Regions from separate parts of the Homo sapiens genome. Here all the other regions are linked to region 4. The links come from fine-mapping of genetic effects on gene expression. A gene starts in region 4. Each other region holds a variant in brackets. All regions are shown on one strand. Distances are between the middles of the regions. Region 1 has its middle 11 kb from the start of KCNA5. Region 2 overlaps CCND2 (cyclin D2). Region 3 has its middle 20 kb from the start of FGF23. Region 4 holds the start of TIGAR (TP53 induced glycolysis regulatory phosphatase). Region 5 overlaps TIGAR (TP53 induced glycolysis regulatory phosphatase).

The links.
Region 1: its variant is fine-mapped to the expression of TIGAR in coronary artery (GTEx, PIP 0.94).
Region 2: its variant is fine-mapped to the expression of TIGAR in whole blood (TOPMed, PIP above 0.99).
Region 3: its variant is fine-mapped to the expression of TIGAR in whole blood (INTERVAL, PIP 0.91).
Region 5: its variant is fine-mapped to the expression of TIGAR in whole blood (TOPMed, PIP above 0.99). The same link has a PIP of 0.9 or more in aorta, blood mononuclear cells, esophagus mucosa, esophagus muscle, hypothalamus and nucleus accumbens.

What each region holds. Positions count from the first base shown.
Region 1 is chr12:5,030,428-5,034,547 of GRCh38, forward strand. It overlaps the pseudogene LOC390282. Among named protein-coding and RNA genes, the nearest start is that of KCNA5, 11 kb to the right of the region's middle. RefSeq lists enhancers at 2,626-3,125, 3,986-4,120. The variant T/G (reference allele first, on the strand shown) is at 1,977.
Region 2 is chr12:4,286,642-4,290,761 of GRCh38, forward strand. It overlaps CCND2 (cyclin D2), which reads left to right. Exons shown (of 5, transcript NM_001759.4): 4 at 2,201-2,349. Among named protein-coding and RNA genes, the nearest start is that of CCND2-AS1, 13 kb to the left of the region's middle. The variant CG/C (reference allele first, on the strand shown) is at 2,542.
Region 3 is chr12:4,397,324-4,401,443 of GRCh38, forward strand. No RefSeq gene overlaps it. Among named protein-coding and RNA genes, the nearest start is that of FGF23, 20 kb to the left of the region's middle. The variant GTTTTA/G (reference allele first, on the strand shown) is at 2,510.
Region 4 is chr12:4,318,886-4,323,005 of GRCh38, forward strand. TIGAR (TP53 induced glycolysis regulatory phosphatase) reads left to right here and starts at 2,328. Exons shown (of 6, transcript NM_020375.3): 1 at 2,328-2,418. The coding sequence starts at 2,387. RefSeq lists an enhancer at 1,920-2,573 and a silencer at 2,039-2,418.
Region 5 is chr12:4,351,195-4,355,314 of GRCh38, forward strand. TIGAR (TP53 induced glycolysis regulatory phosphatase) reads left to right here. Exons shown (of 6, transcript NM_020375.3): 5 at 73-183; 6 at 1,066-4,120. The coding sequence ends at 1,497. Among named protein-coding and RNA genes, the nearest start is that of FGF23, 26 kb to the right of the region's middle. The variant C/T (reference allele first, on the strand shown) is at 1,680.

The DNA.
Region 1 (4,120 bases), 710 kb after region 4:
GCAGGAGGAACCCCTGCCCTTGCTCACTTTCCCCCTTACCTTGTAAAAGTGTCTGTTATCTGCTCCAGAGGTGAAGCAGCACATTTAAAGGCAAGAAGTTTTGTGCCCCTTCCCCAAGCTCACTTCGGAATAAATTCACTATTTTTGTACCAAGTCTTACTCTTGTTCATTGGATTCTGCATGTGGCAAGAAACTGACCTGTGTTTTGGTTACAACATAGTGGAGGACGAAGAACCTTATCAGAAGTGAAGGGTGATCAGGTATCAAGAATGGGAGATTATTTGCTAAAACTAGACTTAGGAGTACACAGATGGACCTAGGAGAAGGTTCGAAGCCTGATTAAAGTTTGGCCAAGCAGAGACTGTTTGTCAGGGGAGGCCAATAATAGTCTTCACATCTATAGCAACAGTACATTGATAGTACCGAGTGGTAGCTATCTTTGAACTACAGCTCTATCAAGTTTCAGTTGACCTTAATATCTAATGACTCTTATTAGTCATTGAACAAAATGCACTCCATAAATGAAGAGACTTGTCAAGAATTAATATATTGACAGAGCTAGGGTTGGGACCTCGGCTTCTTGACTCCCTATCTGGGGCTCTGTGTCCTAATGGACTGGGTCAAGACGAAAATAATTTCTTCTTATAGGGCAGTTCGCACACCCTGGAACTGAATCCTATCTTGTAATGTAACTTATCCTACTAAAAAAATTGATACTAGGCTTCTATATTCTGCTATCTACCGCCATCCTGTGTCTTTGCCTCCCCTCTTTCTTTTACAAATATAGTGCTTCTGTGGCAATCAAAGTTACCATTCAGTTCTCTGGTTGCAAAATATCAAGATGGGATCAGGATGAGAAGAGGGGAAAAGGGAGAAGATGCAGAGGAAAGAAAGGTAAAAATAGACTACTTTTAAAAGAAGAGGAAAAAAACGGTATGTATGCGTATTCAGATTCTCAAAGAGCCAAAAACGAAACACAGGTGCGTCTTTCAGAGCTCCAGAATCAGACCTGAAGACAGCAGACTTCTAAAGACTGTCCAGCGGTCTCCATAATTGCCTACAGTCATGTTTCTGTAACTCATTCCTCATTACTGGTACCTCCTGGTCCTTCTGCTCCACCATTTCCTGGTTTCTACAACTGGCCCCAAGGTCACTGATGATGTTTATGACTTTCTCCTCCACTCTATTGTGAATTCGGATGCCTTTTAGCCCTGCCTCAGATAGCAAGGATTCTTAGCTTAGTGTAGAAACACATTTCCTACATGTTCCCTAAAAAAAAATCACTGTTACACTTCAATTAGACACCTAAATGTCTATGACTAGTACCTCAGTATACACTATACAGCCTCTTTCTTTGAAGAGCCTTTGCAGGGACTGAATGTGGCACAAAATAGATGAAACAGTTATAAAAAAAAGTTATGTTTTTATATTAGAGTTGAGAACCTTGCAGCTTGTGAATATGTGAACTCACTGTAAGGGGCTCGTCTAGGTTTTTCAACAATTGCTGTGGCGGCTTTGTAATGTGTCAAGTGGGCCAGGCTGAAATATGTTTCCCAGAATTCTTTTCCCTGCAAGTTCCCAGTTAGAGTGGGGAATAAGAGACATTTTTGCTTGAAATTTGAAGGACAAAAGTGAAGTGGCAGCCGTGTTACTTTTCACTGTCAGAAGGTGGGGCAGGTGCTTCTGCAGCTCAGGCACATTGTCACTGATCTGTGACTCATGCCCTTGGGGTGGCGGCAGGTGGGCCTGCACATGTTCTGCTTTTCTCTGAATCCTTCACCAGCTTCTCTGATTCCTGGACCAGGTATGTGTTTTAGCTCCATGACAGAGGGAGCCACCTTCCCCTTTAGGACAAGCACGTCATCAGGGTTGGAGGCAGTGAGGACAGAGATATGGGCTCCATTCTGCCCTGAGGGGCCCAGCTTGTCTTTGCCTTCTCCCACATTACATCCACTTTCCCTTCTTTTTTTTTTTAA[T/G]TTACAAAAAGTAGGCCATGTTTATTAGAGTCACACACAGTTGACTGTCTCAGTGTGACTCAAGACCACGAAAAACCCATTTCTCCTTCACTTCTGAGTCCTGGGGTTAAGACCTAGACCAGCAGGCGTACTGCTTGGGCTCCATTCACAGGTTTACAAGTTTTTCACTGAGGGCAATCTGTGACTGTGTGAGGTTGGCCAGGTAGGTCACCATCAACAGGTCGTTGATGTTACCGTTGAGCATGATCTCGAAGTCATCGGGAACTATTTTGGGTACTTGGTTAACCAGGTTCACCAGGAAGCGGCCAACCGACACCTTTCCAGAGAGTACATCCTCTGCATATTGCAACACTCTGCTCAAGGCATCCCGGATGCGAGCGGATGCCCCTCCTACTTGCTGCAAGTCACCTGAGAGTCCAATCACTCTGTTGGGGCTAAAGCAGGTCTTCACGATCAGGTCAACTCCAATGCGTTCAGTGTCACAGTATACATATTTCACTGTCAGAGGTGTGAACATCACTGCCATGGTCCTCCCAGGCTTTCTTTCTCCACAAGATGGCCACACCGGCGGTACCAGCAAGTGCTCCTCCAGCCACGCCAGCCCCAGCCCCGGCAGCGGTCCCAGCCTCAGTTCCAGCACCAATGCCAGCACCGGCTGCGGCTCTGGTTCCCACTTTCCCTTCTTGATGCATTCCCTGGGGCCCTGGAGTTCCAGCATCTGACAGAAAGACAGTAGCCCTATAGAGACTCTCAACCAGCTCCCGGGATTGCATAGGGTCGAGTCCCTGTAATTGATTATTTACTACACATACCTCTTAGAGGTTCTGCGTTTCTGCTTGCACCCTGACCAATACAGCCTCCTTGCAATGTACACAAGCTTCACAGACTCACTGAAAACCTGGAGTAAGAAATGGGGACAAGGCCACTGCAGTTCAGCCCAGGCAACAAGAGTGAGACCTCATCTCTTAAGAAAAAAAAAAATGACCCAGACGTGGTGGCTCATGCCTGTAATCCCAGCATTTTGGAGGCCGAGGCGGGCTGATCACAAGGTCAGGAGATTGAGACCATCTTGGCTAACACGGTGAAACCGCGTCTGTACTAAAAATACAAAAAATTAGCTGGGTGTCGTGGCACACGCCTGTAGTCCCAGCTACTCGGGAAGCTGAGGCAAGAGAATCGCTTGAACCAGGGAGGGCAAGGTTGCAGTGAGCCAAGATCGCACCACCGCACTCCAGCCTGGGTGACTACTCCATCTCAAGAAAAAAAAAAAAAAAAAGGAAAGATGTCCTGAGGCAGTATGTGTACCTGCATGAAAACTGGAGTGGAGAGAGTAGCTGACAAAGGTTACATGGTCTTCCTGTGTTTTCCTACTCGGTAGATGGACAATGATAAGAATGATGGCAACGGAGCAAACCCTGACTGGGGCTTGTGGGGTCCCAGTTACTTTTCATGTATCATCAATCTGGGTGATAACCTGGCGGGCTGGATGCCATCTTCTCCTCTTTCAAATGAGAGACATGAGGCTCAGAAAAGTTATAGGACTTGCTCTAGGTAACACAGAGCATAAATAGTGTCATGGGATCCAAACCCAGATTTTTCTACTCCAAAGCTTGTGATCTTTCCCTCTGCCTCGCTGCATAGCCCCTACAGCTTCCTAACTCACAGGAAATTCCTGTGTCCTTTGGTTGGCTCTATTTATAGTCTTTCTAAAGAGGAATGTGTTGGGCCCTCTTCCTGGCATGAAATCTATCTTTAAAATTTCATTTATTAATAAACACATAGGGCCTGTTTTGTGCCAGACACTGGTCTGAGCAGTTTACAAATATTAACTAATTTAATCTTTACAGCAACTCTGTTATATTACTACTATTAATATAGTAGTAATAGGATTAGTGCCATTTTACAGAGAAGGAAGTGAAGGGACAGGGAAGCTAAGTGTTTTGCCCCAGGTCACACAGCCAGTAAGTTTTGCAGAGTCAGAATTCACACCCATCACCATGTATTGCTGCCCTTTCCTTCAGAGATTCGGACTTCTCATCCTAGCCTGTCTCCTCTTTCCTGTGAAAGCTGAGATGATGGGCTCAGGGGCTCAGAGTTCCCCCAAAGGAAGGCCCTGGGTGAGCCTGAATCTTTACAAATGTCCA
Region 2 (4,120 bases), 32 kb before region 4:
GGACAGTGTCCCCAAGAGGACTCCCCTGAAAATCTTCTTAGTAAAACAAAAAGGGAGGTAGAGTCTCCCTGTGCAACCGGTGCACCTGTTCCCCCTATGCCTGCTGGCTTCCAGAAGTTCATTCGTATGCCAATAATAAGAGTTGGTTTTGCTAGCAGTGGGACAGCAGAGATGGGCATGTGTGAGGTGTGCTTCCCGGTCTGAGGCCTATGGCAGAGGGAAGGGAGGGCCGGGGATACTTGCCTGCCTCTTCCCTGGCAGATGCTCCCACCCGGGCCTTTGTGGGCCCAGGGCCATGGGCCGGCTGCCCCGCTTGTGTTATGAATGTCACAGGGGGGAGCTAACGAGGTTATTGGGCAGAGAAACACTCTCCTGTGACCCATGTGGAAGAGACCTACAGCAGAGCAAGAGGCAGGGAGGCTGGCTTTGTCACACTGTTCATGGCGACAGAGAAGGCGTAGGAGGGGCGGGTGGACAGCAGGCGTGGGCGCAGCACCATTATATACGTCCCTCAAGAGGTGGAGATGGTGAGAGGGCAATGGAGAAAAAGCCAAGGAGACAGGCAGATGGCCAGGTTTGCTCTGCGTTCATGATGGGAGGGGAGGGCTGTGCTTGGCTCAGGGATCCACGGTGTCTAACAATGCTGCTAACTTGATGCTGGGGCAATGGGCTGACCATTAAAAGAGCTGCTGTAGAAAGTGTGTTTGTAATAGAGTGTGTACAGGAGGAAGGGGAAATAGGAGAGGGGCTGGTTTTTGTAGATTTAACCTGATTGTTTTTGCTGTAAGTTGAAGGGTGACCCACGGTTCCCTGTATGCTGTGTCTCCTGCCCCCACGTGCCCCTTCCATGTCTACACACAGTAAGCTCACTAGAGCAATGCTAAAACGAGAAAGAGTACGCTTTGGAAGACTTGCTGCACTCCAGGACCGTCACTAGCGTGATGGCTGCAACTATACCCACCCTAATATCTGTCAACACGAGCAGGGGCAACTTAAACTCTCAAAAGTCTCAGGGTTCTCACCCATACCATTAGGGTGACGCTCGTGTGCATCTTCTGTGGCTGATGGGTAAATTAAACAGGACGTAATGTGTAGCGTACTGCATGTGGTGGTCATTGGTAGCTGTCAGCAGCTGTAACAGGAGAAGTTGGCTGTCTTTATTTCCCCTCGATGGACCAAGCAGCTGCTGGATCATGGCCACCCAGCCCCTCTGAAGGAGTGCTCGGAGGAACACAAGGGGGCTGGTCTTCCAAGAGGAGCCCTCTAGCATGGCAGTGGACGGGGTTCAAGCCCCTCTGATTTATTATCCTCATTCTGCACTTCCCTGTAGCAAGTCACATTTTTTTCTCTTAGCAATAAAATGGGGCCTTCAGTCTCATGAGTCATAACATCGAAACCGAGTCACCCATCTGATTCGGATGCAATGATTAATCTTCAGTGCTTAGTTAGAGCCCTATGTTAGGGTTAGAATCCTCTGCCCTAATGTTCTGAGGGTTCTTGCTGTTGGGCCAGAGGTTGGGAACTGGGTGGAACTCAGCCCCCACTCGCCCACTCCCTGCATTGCTGCTTCTCTCATTTCCTTTTTTAGATCAAACCTTTTTTTTTTTTTTTTGGGTGGGGGTCATATTAATCCTCAATGCCTGTCCAGAGACTATAACAAGATCCCATCTGAATTAGCATTATGCATAGATTTTGCCCGTTTCTCCCATCTCCTTGTACTTTCCCTCCTTCTCACATCTGGAGCCCCTGGTCTGTCCTGCTTGCATGGCCCATGGGGTACCTTGTCTGCACTGGTCTCAGGCATTCTCTGCTCTGTTCCCACCATCACCTCTAGAGGAGACTATGACTCGCTCACCTTGCTCCCCCCACCAGGGTCAAGAATGTTAACTCAGACATGCTTAATATGACTGGGATCTGGGGATTGGGGACCTTGAATCCTCTGTGCATTCATTGTGTGCGCTTAGATAAGCTGTCTTCCTTCCCTGCCTCAGTCTCCTTCGTTTAATCTGGAACAGCCATGGTGATGGCAAATAAACACAGGCTCCTTGTGAAAGAACTCGAGGGAGGACATGCCTGTAGGGCACGGGGTCACTCGCGCCGCTGACCTGCTGCCGTCCTGTTTCTGAGTCTCTGCAGTCTCGGGAGCTCCAGGATCCAAATTCGTTCTGTGCCCTGACCTTCTGCCTCTCATTCCTTGCAGACTTTAAGTTTGCCATGTACCCACCGTCGATGATCGCAACTGGAAGTGTGGGAGCAGCCATCTGTGGGCTCCAGCAGGATGAGGAAGTGAGCTCGCTCACTTGTGATGCCCTGACTGAGCTGCTGGCTAAGATCACCAACACAGACGTGGTAGGTGGCCACCACCTTCTTGGCTAAGTCCAGATGTCTCTTCTCAGCTCAGGGAAGGAGACGACGGATTTGATTATGTTGTGTCAGAGGTATTTTTCTGGTTTGTTTCCTAAGATCGACATCCAAGGGAGTGCAAAGTTCAGCAGGTGACACCCCCTCTTAAGGTTCTGAAAAGCTGTGCACGGGAAAATA[CG/C]GAAGAAAACTCAGCAAGCAGATGAAGGGGGTGGGGGTGGGAGGGCTGTTTACCGATGTTCCTTTATGGCGTGGGCTTCTCAGTGGGTCTGAATTGTTGCTTCATTGCCATATTTGTACACGCTGCCAGGCTGCCTCTGCCCGGCAGCGAAGAGCTGCCGTGTCTGCTTTCACACGCTGAGGCTGTAAGGCGCACAGAGGAGAAAGGAGAGCCAGGACTCAGCTGCAGTGGATGGAGCAGACACACAAGAGGTGCCCCACTGTGAGAACGGTGTCCGTCCCTGGCAAACCTCTCGACCCCTCCCCGCTCTCTCTTCCCTTTTGTTCAATGCAGTAATGGATTACAAAGTGCTTTCAAAAGACAAAGTGCCATACAAACTCAAGAAACTATTATTAGCTACGGAGCTTCCCCATTCTGTGTGCCCTGTGGACGGCCCAGAGGCTGTTAACTTCCTGTTGCCAGAATTTGGAGCTCCTGAGAAGAAAGGTTTTGAGAGAGACCAGGGTCAAGTGAGCCTCTGAATTCAATCAGCAGGAAGCTGCAGTCCTAGCCCGTCCGAGACAGGATGGTGCCAAGAGGTCAGAGAGGCCATTCCTTCGTTTTCCACGGGCAGGACAGGGACTGAAGTAACCAGCCAGGAGCGGGGTGGGCAGTGGCTGAGCTGGGGCTAGAACCCCCAGGCTCCGACTGCCCCCTGGAAACTTCCCACTCCACCCTTGTTGCCGCTCCTGGGATCTTTTGGTTTGAAAAAAAACCCTGGGGTTTAAAGTCAACCTGAGAGAGGGGTGTTGGCCCTGAGCCCTCATGCATCACCATGGAGAGGCTGAAGAATGCTGGGCACTTCACGATGACACCCTCTGGATGGTCCGGGGGGATTCAGATGCCCTCTGCGGGCTTTTATTGAGTTAAGGGATCATGTGGTTTATAGGCCTATGGCTGAGGCCTGCACGAGGGATACGGGACAGGTTAAACCTCAGAGAGCCCACGGCTGCAGCTCGCCGGCCTCCTCGCCCGCCCACCTGGATTTTCCCTGGCATTTGTTCCCAGCTCAGAGAAATGGCGCAGGGAGATGCTGACGGAGCAAATCCGGGGTCCTCCTCTGAGATAGTTCGTAGATATGGTTTTAAAATGCGGGCTCCAAACATACGCTTTTTAAACGAGGACTCCAGAACACAGACTGAAAACCTCCCTCCAGTGCAGCATGAAGAATGCTTTTCTAATCCTCCAGAGGAAAATCGTGGACGGGACTTAACGTTTATAGAAATGGTACGCTTTCCTCCTTTTCTGAATGTCTCCAATTAAGGCTGCCTTACAAATAGGACTCTCAGCCAGTTTAAGACAAGCCCTTCCTCAATGCCTGGAGACAAAAATGTCAGTGACAGGAGTTGGAAGCGGCCACCCCCCTCCTCCTGCCCCCAGGCATTGTAACCTTTTCCCCCGATGTTGATAGACCTGCTCTGATGGGCTGACCACCCTACCGGCTCCAGCCTTTTCCCACCTCCCTTTGTCCCCCGTTACTGATCTCACATGGACAGTGGTGGAAATTTCCCTCCTGGGAGTTGCTGCTGAGTCTCTTGG
Region 3 (4,120 bases), 78 kb after region 4:
ATAATAGGAAGGGACATAGAGTGATGTTCCAAGATAATTAGTTAAAAAACTCAAAAATGCTGTAATCATCAGACCACCAAAAGAAATTTTTTGGAGAAGTATTGCTTCATTTATTTACTTCCATTTTTCCAAAATTATTTGGGTCGGTTTCGGGAGTGTTTATAGGATAATTCATGACTGTCTTTTCAATCAGGGAAATGGAAAACTAGGAACTACATTTTGAGTTTAAAAATGATTTCCTCCTTAAAATGTCCATGTAACTTTTTTTTTTTGAGACAAGTTTTTACTGTTGCTCAGGATGGTGCTATCATGGCTCACTACAGCTTCCATCTCCCTCCCCAGGCTCAGATTGTCCTCCTACCTCAGCCTCCCGAGCAGCTGGGACCACAGGTGTGCACCACCACAGCCAGCAAATTTTTGTATTTTTAGTAGAGACGGGGTTTTGCCATGTTGGCCAGGTTGTCTAGAATTCCTGGGCTCAAGTGATCCACCTGCCTTGACCTCCCAAAGTGCTGGGATTACAGGCATGAGCCACCATGCCTGGCCCATGTACCTTATAGCCTGACGGGTTTGGCAAAACCAGAGGATTCGACTTAGAAAATAAAAAGCAGTTGCCGTGTGCTGCTGTTTGTTGTCTTTGTTCTGTGATACAATTTCAATATATATATTCACTTAATATATATTTAGGCTGGGCACAGTGGCTCACACCTATAATCCCAGCACTTTGGGAGGCCAAGGAAGGTGGATCACTTGAGGCCAGGAGTTTGAGACCAGCCTGGCCAACATGGTGAAACCCCATCTCTACTAAAAATACAACAATTAGCTGGTTGTGGTGGCTTACGCCTGTAGTTCCGATTACTCGAGAGGCCGAGGCATGAGAATTGCTTAAATCCAGGAGGTGAAGGTTGCAGTGAGCCAAGATCGCACCACTGCACTCCAGCCCGGGTGACAAAGAGAAACTCTGACCCCCCCGCCCCCAAAAAAGAAAGCAGTTGCTGTGTGCTGCTGTAGTCTCTGCTCTGTGATACAACTTCAGCATATATATTCATTTAGTATATATGTATTGGGTAGAGTTGCCTTGTGATACTTTAGCAATGAAAAGAAAAAGACAGATGTGGCCTCCGCTCTCAAAGTGATTGATGTGTAGAAAGGAAGAAAGACAATTCTATAAGTAACATTAAACTGTGATTAATGTTATAATAGGGGTAGAATTCAGCCCCATAAGAAGGTGTGGCAATGGGTCCTATCCAGACAGGGGAATCGGTGAAGAATCAGGAAGAAATGATGACATCTAAGCTGACATCTGAAAGATGAACAACTCTGAAAAATATAGAAAAGTAGAGGGGTAAAAAAATCCATAATCTTTCTGAACATTAATGATTATTTGATAACAGCTTAGTTTATTTTCTTCTGATCTTTATTTATTAAATAATATTTTTTGTGAAAATAATACTCATAATACCTTAAGAAAAAAGAGTAAAAAGAACAAAGTAAAAAAAAAACTCACTTGGCTGGGCGCGGTGGCTCACGCCTGTAATCCCAGCACTTTGAGAAGCCGAGGTGGGTGGATCACGAGGTCAGGAGATGTAGACCATTCTGGCTAATACGGTGAAACCCCTTCTCTACTAAAAATACAAAAAATTAGCCAGGCGTGGTGGCACACGCCTGTAGTCCCAGCTACCCAGGAGACTGAAGCAGGGGAATCCCTTGAACCTGGGAGGTGGAGGTTGCAGTGAGCCGAGATCGCACCACTGCACTCCAGCCTGAATGACAGAGGGAGACTCCATCTCAAAAAAAAAAAAAAAAAAAACCACTCAGTGCCTTTGTTAGTCCGTTTTGTTCTCTTATAACAGAATACCCGAGACTGGTTAATTTATAAAAAACAGGTATTTATTTCTTATAATTCTGGAGTTTGGTAAGTCCAAGGTTGAGGAGCCTGCATCTGGTGAGGGTTGTTTTGCTGTGTTATTCCATGGTAGAAGGCAGAAAGGCAAGAGGGCAAGAGAGCATGGGGCAGGGGGAGGGAGAGAGAAAAAGAGAGGGAAAGAGAGAGAGAGAGGAGGAAGGGAGGAAGAAGAAAGGAAGGGAAGACAGGAAGGATGGAGGGAGGGAGAGATTGAACTCACACCTCAAGCTTTTTTATAATTGGCATTAACCCATTTATGAGAATGGAGCCCTCCTAGTACTGTTGCACTGGGGATTAAGTTTCCAGCCTATGCTTTCTGGGGAACACATTCAAACCATAGTACCACCCATAAATATCCACCCTTGAATGAACATTATTTCATATATATATATGTTTATGGATAGAATATTAGGTAAAAATGTTAACAGACACACTTATAAAAATTGGATCATACTATTTGTGCTATTTTTTAAAACAAATGTTTAATTAAATGTTACTTGGATTTAACAGAAGAAAAAGAAATGGAAATCAAACTGAAGGAACTGGTGAAATTTAGTTAAATTTGTCTTTTCTATTAAATGTGTCCTTTGCACAAGAGGTATT[GTTTTA/G]ATAAAATCCTTCTACATTTAAGAAAACAGGTATGAAAATATTGTGAGAACCATTAAGAGATTAGAATAATTGGCTATATATTTTTGGAAACTTATTTAGACAGTTTAAATTGGGTAAGCGCTATGAAAAATAAGATAATAAGCATTTCTCACATGTCCTCTCTCCTCACAACTCCCTAATTTTGTTAATTATATTGTTAATTTTACACTGTCAAAAGTTACCAGAAAATTGTCAAAGTTTATGTTGTTGAAATTTGTTCTGTAATCATAATTTCCACAATTGTTCAGTCTTCCTTCAGCATCTAATAGTTTCAGTTCTTACCACCAGTACTTTTTTGACTGTTTCTCCTTTCTTGAATTTTTATTTGGATTTATAGTTTAATATATAAAATCTTATAATCAAGTAGGTATTTTTCCTCCAAGTGTGATTCCTGGGTGCTATCTTTTTAGAGAAAGAACTTAGAAATTATTTTTTCTTTTTGCCTTTGTGTTAAATGACTTCTTGATGGTTATAATTTTGGGTACCATTTTCTTTTCCTCGAAACTTTGTAAATATCACTACATTGTTTTCTGACATTAAATATTGCTTTTGGAAGTCTGAGGTCGGCTTGGTTTTGCTCCTTGTACATTAATTGCTTTTGTGCGTAGCTTTTGTTCTTTTGTTTGTTTTTTAGGAAGGCCTTACTAAGTGCCAGGCACTGTTCTCTTTTTTTTTTTAATACTTGAGTTATAGTAATTAATTTAACATTTTATATCATCTTCAAGATGCTTGAGGAATTCTTGAAGTTCAGTACATTAACTGGATATATCTTGGTGTTGAAGCTTCCATGTTAGTTTTTCGTGAAACCAGTATGTGTAGATTTGATTCTTTCTGTATTTCCAGGAAAATTCTTGTATTATATACTTTTAATGTTTCTAGTCCATGTCTTGGCTTCTTTACCTCAGGGACGTGAAATACCTTATGTTGTGTGGTCTCTCACCATCCTTTAGATTTATTGTTTTTTTCTCTAATTGCTTTTAGTTCTTGTCTTTGTCTTCTGCATCCACTGGCACTAGCTAAAGCCTTTCTACTGGCAAATACATTCACATGAAGTGTATTGTTCTGCTTCTTCTTTATTTATTGCTTTGCCTCCTTATTTCTTTCCTTAGCACTATAATTTTCCTCTCCTCCTCTCTCCCCCGCTCCGCCCCTCTATGGTTCTCTCTCTGCCTCTCTGTCTCTGTCTTTCTCTCTTTTGTTCTTATTCTATTGTTTTATCATCTTGTCTTTGAGTTTTCATTTTAATCAAATTCATGTTCCTTTAAAGATTTATTTTCTATTGTAAAACACTTGTGAAGAATTTCCGTCTTTTCCTTGGATTATGTCTTCTTCCAGAATGGGTTCTTTGTTTTTTGCATGCTGTGATTCCTTCTTTGCTTTTACTTTGCTTTTTCTCTTCCTCTCTCACTCCCTCTATTCCTTCCTTCCTTCCTTCCCTCCTTTCCCTTCTTTCCCTTCCTTCCTTCCCTTCTTTCCCTTCCTTCCTTCTTTCTTTCCTCTGTAGTATTTTTGCATACTTTCCATGCTATTTCTTTGTATCTTATTCGTGCCTGGGCAGCTCCATGC
Region 4 (4,120 bases):
GGGGTCTTGCTCTGTCACCCAGGCTGGAGTGCAGTGTTGGAATCTCGGCTCACTGCAACCTCTGCCTCCCGGGTTCAAACGATTCTCCTGCCTCAGCCTCCCTAGTAGCTGCGACTACAGGCACGTGCCACCATGCCCGGCTAATTTTTTGTATTTTTAGTAGAGATGGGGTTTCACCGTGTTAGCCAAAATGGTCTCTATCTCCTGACCTGCAGATTCTCCTGACCTGCCTTGGCCTCCCAAAGTGCTGGGATTACAGGCGTGAGCCACCATGCCCGGCCATATTTCTCATCTCTAAAGTGAAGATAATGTAGCCTATCCTGTCTACCTTAGAATTGTTCAGAAGGCCAAATGTGATATTACATGTAAGACTGTTTTGAAATGTGTGCCTATGAATCTAAGTATCTCATTCATCTCTTCTCTAAACACATCTTTTCATATATAAGTGGGGATTCAAGGAAATAAATGCATTATGAAATACAAGAATTTAGGTAACAGTGCATGGAAGACAATGTCACCTAGCTAACATTATTGTTACTTGTGTCACATTGCTAGGTACTGCTATCCCAGTTTACCTGTCACAAAACCCAGGGTTAGAGAAGCTCATGTTATAAATAAACTTTCAGTGCCACAAAAGAAATAGCACTCGAATATAAAATTTTCTTTTTAATTCTCAGCAAGGCAAGGTACTTCTATAGAAGGGTGCGTCCTTACAGATGGAGCAATGGTGAGCGCACACTTGGACAAGGGAGGGGAAGGGGTTCTTATCCCTGACGCACGTGGCCCCTGCTGCTGTGTAGTGCCCCACCGCACAGGCTAAACTAATTCCGATTGGCTAATCTAAAGAGAGTGATGGGGGTGAGTGGTTTGGCGGGAAAAACAGTTATGACAGAGCAGGTAATCTGAGTCAGGGTGGCGTAGGTAATGGGAAGGAGTCAGGGTGGAGTAGGTAATGGGAAGGAGTCAGGGTGGAGTAGGTAATGGGAAGGAGTCAGAGTGCAGCAGGTAATCGAAAAAGGTTGTGGCCGGGCGCGGTGGCTCACGCCTGTAATCCCACCACTTTGGGAGGTCGAGGCGGGCGGATCACGAGGTCAGGAGATCGAGACCATCCTGGCTAACACGGTGAAACCCTGTCTCTACTAAAAATACAAAAAATTAGCCGGGCGTGGTGGCAGGCGCCTGTAGTCCCAGCTACTCGGGAGGCTGAGCCAGAATGGCGTGAACCCGGGAGGCGGAGCTTGCAGTGAGCCGAGATCACACCACTGCACTCCAGCCTGGGTGACAGAGCCAGACTCCATCTCAAAAAAATAAATAAATAAATAAAAAAGAGAAGGTTGCTTTAGGAGGAAGTTAAGTTTAAAAGTAAAAAGCAAAGAATTGAACATACTGACATATTGATTCTTTGAAAAGAAATTTAGAACTCATATCTAACATGAAGCAACTCCCTCAACGTTCTGAAGGCTATTAAAGAGAAATTATTCATCTGAGGCTTGTTAAAAACGGCAAGACTTTACTCAAGACTACTGCAATAGGTGAGAGAGACTGAATTCGACTCTAGAATACAACCGGGACCAGTGGAGATTTATAGCCAGGGGGCGGGATGGAAGGGATGAAAGAGAAGATGGGAAATTACCAGAACGTGGTAAGCTATCTGGGGGAGGGGGAGGAGGAACTTTACTAGATATCAAGGGCCTTAGAAGAGAGCATCAACAGTGAGGTCTCTCTTGATAAACAGGCTTAGCAGGATTCTTTGGTAAAACCAGGCTCAGCAGGCCGAGGATGCCGTCTAGTATAGAAAAGGCCTCAAAGGAGCCCGACTAAAGTTTGGTCACGGAGGGCGTCTGTCCCGGCGGAGTTGGGGTGGGTGGGTCTAAGTCTACAGACCTGGCCGACGCTACGTCCCTAAGGTTAGGGACTAACAGACCTCATAGAACACAGTCTGTTGGTCGCTGTACACCCGTGAGGGGTTCATCACAGTGGCCAGCTATAAGACGAACGGTTGCATTCCAGCCTCAATCGCAACAACCACAAATCAGTGCGCCGGCTTCCTTATCTGCCCCGAACGCAGGCTGCCGGCTATCGAGGGAAGGAATCCTACCGCGGACTCCGCGGGCGGGGCCTCCCGCACCTGCCGCGCGCCAATCACAGGCCGGCGCGCAGGGGCGCAAGCGCCGCAGCCCTGGGCGGGGCCCCCGTGGCTCCCTCGTCTCCCCCGCCCCGTCGGCCTCGCCCGGCCCTGAGTGGCCTTCGGGGATGACGTGCGAGGCCGCCTCGGCCTATGGCGGCGGAGCCGGCCGGCTGCTTGGCGGAAGTGGTGTGGGGGAGGTAGCCCGCAGTGCAGGGGCAGCGCGGCGCGGGGCCACCGACGGGACGCGGCTCCGGGAACATGGCTCGCTTCGCTCTGACTGTTGTCCGGCAGTGAGTATGGCTGTGGCAGGATGTCTTTCTCTCTCTCTTCCTTGAGTGTGTTGGAGCGGGTGAAGGGAAAACGGGTCCACCACCCTCTCCCCTCCCTGCTCGCTCCAGCCCGGGAGGGCTGGCTTGGAAGCGCTTTTTCCGGGGCGCTTGCCCTGGGGCCGTCCCGTGTCGCCCCTCCTCTCACCCCAGCAGCCCCGAGGGACGACGGCAGGTCTTAGATAGCTTCGTTCCGTGTTTCAGATAAAGTGAGGCCCGGAGGAGCAAGGGATCGGGGTTCGTAGGCACTTGGTGGCTGCACCAAAAACGGTGCCAGACATGTCCACAGACTTGTCTGGGTACCGATTTTGCTCCCCAGCAGATTGCAAAGAGTTTGCAGAATTGCTCGTCCATGGCTGATGTTTTTGATGCCGGCTGCCTTCCGCTATCCTCTCAGTTTCTGAGGTTCCCCCTCGTTTCCCCAGGCAGTCAGCCCCCCAGGCACATATATGAGACTTCTTTCTTTTCCCCAGAGGTTACAGTTCTGGGAGAGAAAAGAGGATCACAGCTCTGATCTCAGCAGACCGTATCATCCCAAATAAATGTTTTTATTATCATAACGTTACACGGAGCTGCATGCTGATAGGTCTTTATGTATTTGCCAAGTGTTAACGGGAGGTGAAAATCAGGGTAGTTAAGAGCACAGATTTTTATTTTTATTTTTTTTTTTTTGTGAGATGGAGCCTCGCTCTGTCACCCAGGCTGGAGTGCAGTGGCGCTATCTCTGCTCACTGCAACCTCCCGCCTCCGGGGTTCAAGCGATTCTCCTGCTTCAGCCTCCCGAGTAGCTGGGATTACAGGCATGCGCCACCACGCCCGGCTAATTTTTGTATTTTTAGTAGAGACAGGGTTTCGCCATGTTGGTCAGGCAGGTCTGGAACTCCTGACCTTAAGTGATCCGACTACCTCGGCCTCGCAAAGTGTTGGGATTACAGGCATGAGCCACCGCGCCCTGCTAAGAGCACAGATTTTTCAGGCAAGGTAGACCTCGGTTGGAGTCTGTTCTCCAGCTAAGAGCCAGGTAGCCTGGACTTAAGTTTCCTGATATGCAAATGATAGTGCGTATCTCACTACTTTAATGCGAGAATTAAATGGGGGACAGGTAAAGTGTATGATGCAACAGGGAAAGAAATATATCTGAGAAATAACTTCTATAAAGAAAGCTCCAATAAAAGTGCAGTTGATTCCCAAATACGAACGTATAGTTCAGCACACCAGCATTTTGAGTAGGTAATGTGTGCCAGTAGACTGGATCATACAGATAAATAACATACCATTTCTGCATTCATGGAGCTCACAAAGGACATTAATATGATTTAACTTTGTCAATTGACTTTAACAGCTATCTTTTCTGGCCTGTCCTTCCTTTATAAGAAAGATAATCTTAAGAATCCTCTAAAATTGTCTGTTTAGGATTAGCAGGATTTTAATGGCTACCTTAGAAATCTAGTTCCTCACTATCTCTTCTCCCACCCCTCTCGGTTGTATAGAATGCCTTGGGAGAATTCTTAACTTACTAAAGGTCACACAGCTAATCGGTAGCAGAACAGGAACTAGAGGCCTGATCACCCTTTCTTCCAATGTTAGTGCACTTTCTAGACGCCTGACCCAGCCAGCCCAGTGTCATATTTATAATTGAAACTCAGACCATCAAGGTGGTTCACCC
Region 5 (4,120 bases), 32 kb after region 4:
TGCCATAAACATAAACTTAATTGTTATATTGCAATTTCATTTGAGAAACTGTTATCTATTGGACTGTTTCAGAAATACGGGGTTGTAGAAGGCAAAGCGCTAAGTGAGCTGAGGGCCATGGCCAAAGCAGCCAGGGAAGAGTGCCCTGTGTTTACACCGCCCGGAGGAGAGACGCTGGACCAGGTATGTGGCGCTGCCGATGTCAGAATGGTTGAATTAAGACTCAAAATTAGATGTTTTGGAATTTTAGCTAAGCAGTTTGAAAGTTGCTTGGTTCATTCTCTTTTCCATTTTAAATTATCTATTTACTTAGCAAATTATTCTTTTCTATTTAAAATCTTATTTACTGTTCAGTTGCCTTTGTCATTATTGATAATGGACTTAAGGAAAGGTGTTATTAGATGGTACTTCTAAAAAAGACCTTTGAATATGAAGCAGTGGCTTAGTGGTGGGAGTGGAGTTCAAAGAGGGTGATCGGCAAGTCACTCGAGGTGAAATAACTCAAAACATGAAGTCTTCAAGCCTCTGCTGCCTCCTCAGCTCTGTTCATGGTGGCATCCCTGTGCTTGCATTTCTTTGGAGTGTTCTGCTTCGAATTGCATATTGGTGATTCCCCCTAACCCACCACCACCTCCTTAATCTTTATCTTAATTTTCTTGAAAATACTTTCCATTACTTTAGTAAGGGAAGGATTTGTTGCTGCTGTTGTTCCAGTGGCACTGAAGTGCCAGAGACAGCTTCCTGGTTAGCACTGTTTTATGAGTTTCTGTTGGCTTGTAGATTTCCCTAACTAGACCGTGAGTGCTTTGAACTCAGGAATTGGGAATTGGATCTTCTTCATCTTGGTCTCCATGGTGCTTTTGTAATTCCAGAAATGTGGTGGATACTTATATATGTCCATGAAACTACTGATTGAACGAATAGAAATGTAGATTGATATTCTTCTGCTTGTGTAGTACTTGGCATTCAATATTAGAAAAAAATCCAGTCAGTTATGTTCTATGTTAACGTTTTAAGGAAGTCATTAATGTCACTTTATTTTGACTTTTATTTCTTTTCTTGTAGGTGAAAATGCGTGGAATAGACTTTTTTGAATTTCTTTGTCAACTAATCCTGAAAGAAGCGGATCAAAAAGAACAGTTTTCCCAAGGATCTCCAAGCAACTGTCTGGAAACTTCTTTGGCAGAGATATTTCCTTTAGGAAAAAATCACAGCTCTAAAGTTAATTCAGACAGCGGTATTCCAGGATTAGCAGCCAGTGTCTTAGTTGTGAGTCACGGTGCTTACATGAGAAGTCTGTTTGATTATTTTCTGACTGACCTTAAGTGTTCCTTACCAGCCACTCTGAGCAGATCTGAACTTATGTCAGTCACTCCCAATACAGGGATGAGTCTCTTTATCATAAACTTTGAGGAAGGAAGAGAAGTTAAACCAACGGTTCAGTGTATTTGTATGAACCTACAGGATCATCTAAATGGACTGACTGAAACTCGCTAAGGTTAAATCTGCATCAAAATCTAACCATTTTGAGCCTCTGAAGGGAGTGCCATTGGCTTTATTTACTTCTCTCCTCTGCTAGTTCTGATTTGGAAACAGTTAAAAGCCAATTTTTAGCTCCAGTGGAACCATAGCCACATAAAACTTTAATGGACAACCATATAGAATTAACTTATTTTGTC[C/T]AAGTACAGTTGGCATTTTCCAGAATAATTTTACCACCCTGCTAGATGTCATCTCTGGATTGCACATGGATGATGAAGGAACTCAGCATTGAAAGTTGGGGGATTAGTAACCTTGTTACAACGGTTTCTTTTTCATTTTAGCCTATTTTAATGGCTATTGGTAAGATACTGTATGTTTTTAGTATCTCATCCAGTGCTTAGAAGAAAGAATGGTTTATAATTCCCAGTACATGTTTATATTGACTGTGTTATATTTTTAAATCCTTTAAATAAAAAATCCTTATAAGTTTATGTAAAGCAAAATAACACTAACATGTTTTACGTATAAATCAACTATTGGAATTTTTTATTCTAGAGGGCTTGAAATGTGGATGAATACAGATTATGATTGCAGAATGGTCTGGGGGAAGAAGTTAAAACATTTGATTTAAATACAGTAAAGAAAGAATCTTGGAGCAGAAGATAGAAGAACAGCCTTTTCTAAATAATGCCTTGCCAAAGTCAAGTCAATGGAAACCAGGAAAGCCAAAAAAATGAAGAATATCCACTTGCTTCTTATCTAACCTGTAGGCTGAAGAATTTCCAGTTTGAGGAAGGCTCTAAAGAAAGTAAACAGTTAACAGAACACCACACAGTAATCAGAATAAAAGAGGGGCCTTCTTTGTAAAGAATGGTGCTCTGGGCCGGGCCCAGTGGCTCACACCTGTAATCCCAGCACTTTGGGAGGCTGAGGCGGGCGGATCACAAGGTCAGGAATTCTAGACCAGCCTGGCCAACAATGGTGAAACCCTGTCTCTACTACAAATACAAAAAAGCCAGGCGTGGTAGCAGGCGCCTGTAATCCCAGCTACTTGGGAGGTTGAGGCAGGAGAATCGCTTGAACCCGGGAGGTGGAGGTTGCAGTGAGCCGAGATCGCACCACTTCACTCCAGCCTAGGTGACAGAGGGGATGACAGAGGGTGCTCTGCGGGCAGGGAAGGCGGGGTGGTTGGGGGGGAGAGAATGTTGCTCTGATAACCACAGCTGTGGTTATTTTGTGGCAGGTACAGGTGAGGTTGCCTCTTCTTTCCACCAGATGGCACTGGAGAAAAGGGATTTTGATTAACTTAATTTTATACACAAGATTGGTCTTTCAGAAATCTTTATCTAAATGAAGAAACTGTTCTACATGTAGTTCGCTTTTAAGTCACCATGTTGCTAAATGCTGTGAGTCTCAACTTTAAAGAGGGTTAATACTAAAGTTGTCAGTTAAGGCTATAGTCACATATAGTCAAAATTTACTTTGACATCATTTTAAATCATATGTAAAATTCAGTATTATATTGTTCTTAGTGTGTCTAGCACTACCAGTTTTCTACCAGTATTGAAACAGGGCACGTGTTTGAGCATCAGAGGAAGTATACTGTAAATAAAAATTTGAAAAATAAGCAAAAAGGACAGACAATAATTATCTCCATTCCCACCATACTGAAGTCATCTTTCCACTTTTTTTTTTAAAGAAACAAAACATAAAGATAAAAGTAGAGTTCTCTTTAACCAGCTCTCACAGTCCTGTTCCCTCCAGAGGCAGCCACTGCAGTGAGTCTGTGTATATGTTCACCTGTTCATCTGCTTGCAATGTTCATCTGTTCCTTATATTTTCACCTAGTGTCTGGAAGGAGATGGTACTGTTTTGGTGCTTTAAAAATAAATATCAAGCCATCTGTGTTCTTTATTTTTACTTATGTCTTGGAGGCATCTCTGTGTTGATATATATAGATCTAGTTAATTATAACCACTCTATTCTATTAAATATAGCACATTTTTGTTTATTAGTGGGCATTTAGGTATATTCAGTTTTTATTTTCTTTGCTTTTTTTCTTTTTTTTTTTTTTTGGAGACAGAGTCTCTCTCTGTTGCCCAGGCTGGGGTGCAATGGCGTGATCTTGGCTCACTGCAACCTCCACCTCTCGGGTTCAAGCAATTCTTGTGCCTCAGCCTCCTGAGTAGCTGGGACTACAGGCATGCACCACCACGCCTGGCCTTTTTTTTTTTTTTAGTAGAGACGGGGTTTCGCCATGTTGGCCAGGCTGGTCTTGAACTTCTGACCTCAGGTGATCCACCTGCCTTGGCCTTCCAAAGTGCTGGGATTGCAGGCATAAGCCACCGTGCCTGGCCTATGATGCATTTTTTTAATATGTGTTCTTAATTTTTAAGACAAACCAATATACCTTATCCTTTATGGGGTTTTTTTGGTGTGTATCTTTAAGAAGACTTCTCTACCATGAGGTCATACAGTAATGTCTTCTTACAGTTTTTGAGAACTTCTGAATGTCAAATCTTGAAATTGAAATTTGCTTTTTATAGTATAAGGTAAGAATTTAATTTTTTTTTTCATGTGGTTGAAACAGTTATCCCAACACCATTGTAAAGGCTGTTCTTTCCCAATTGGTTTGTGGTGT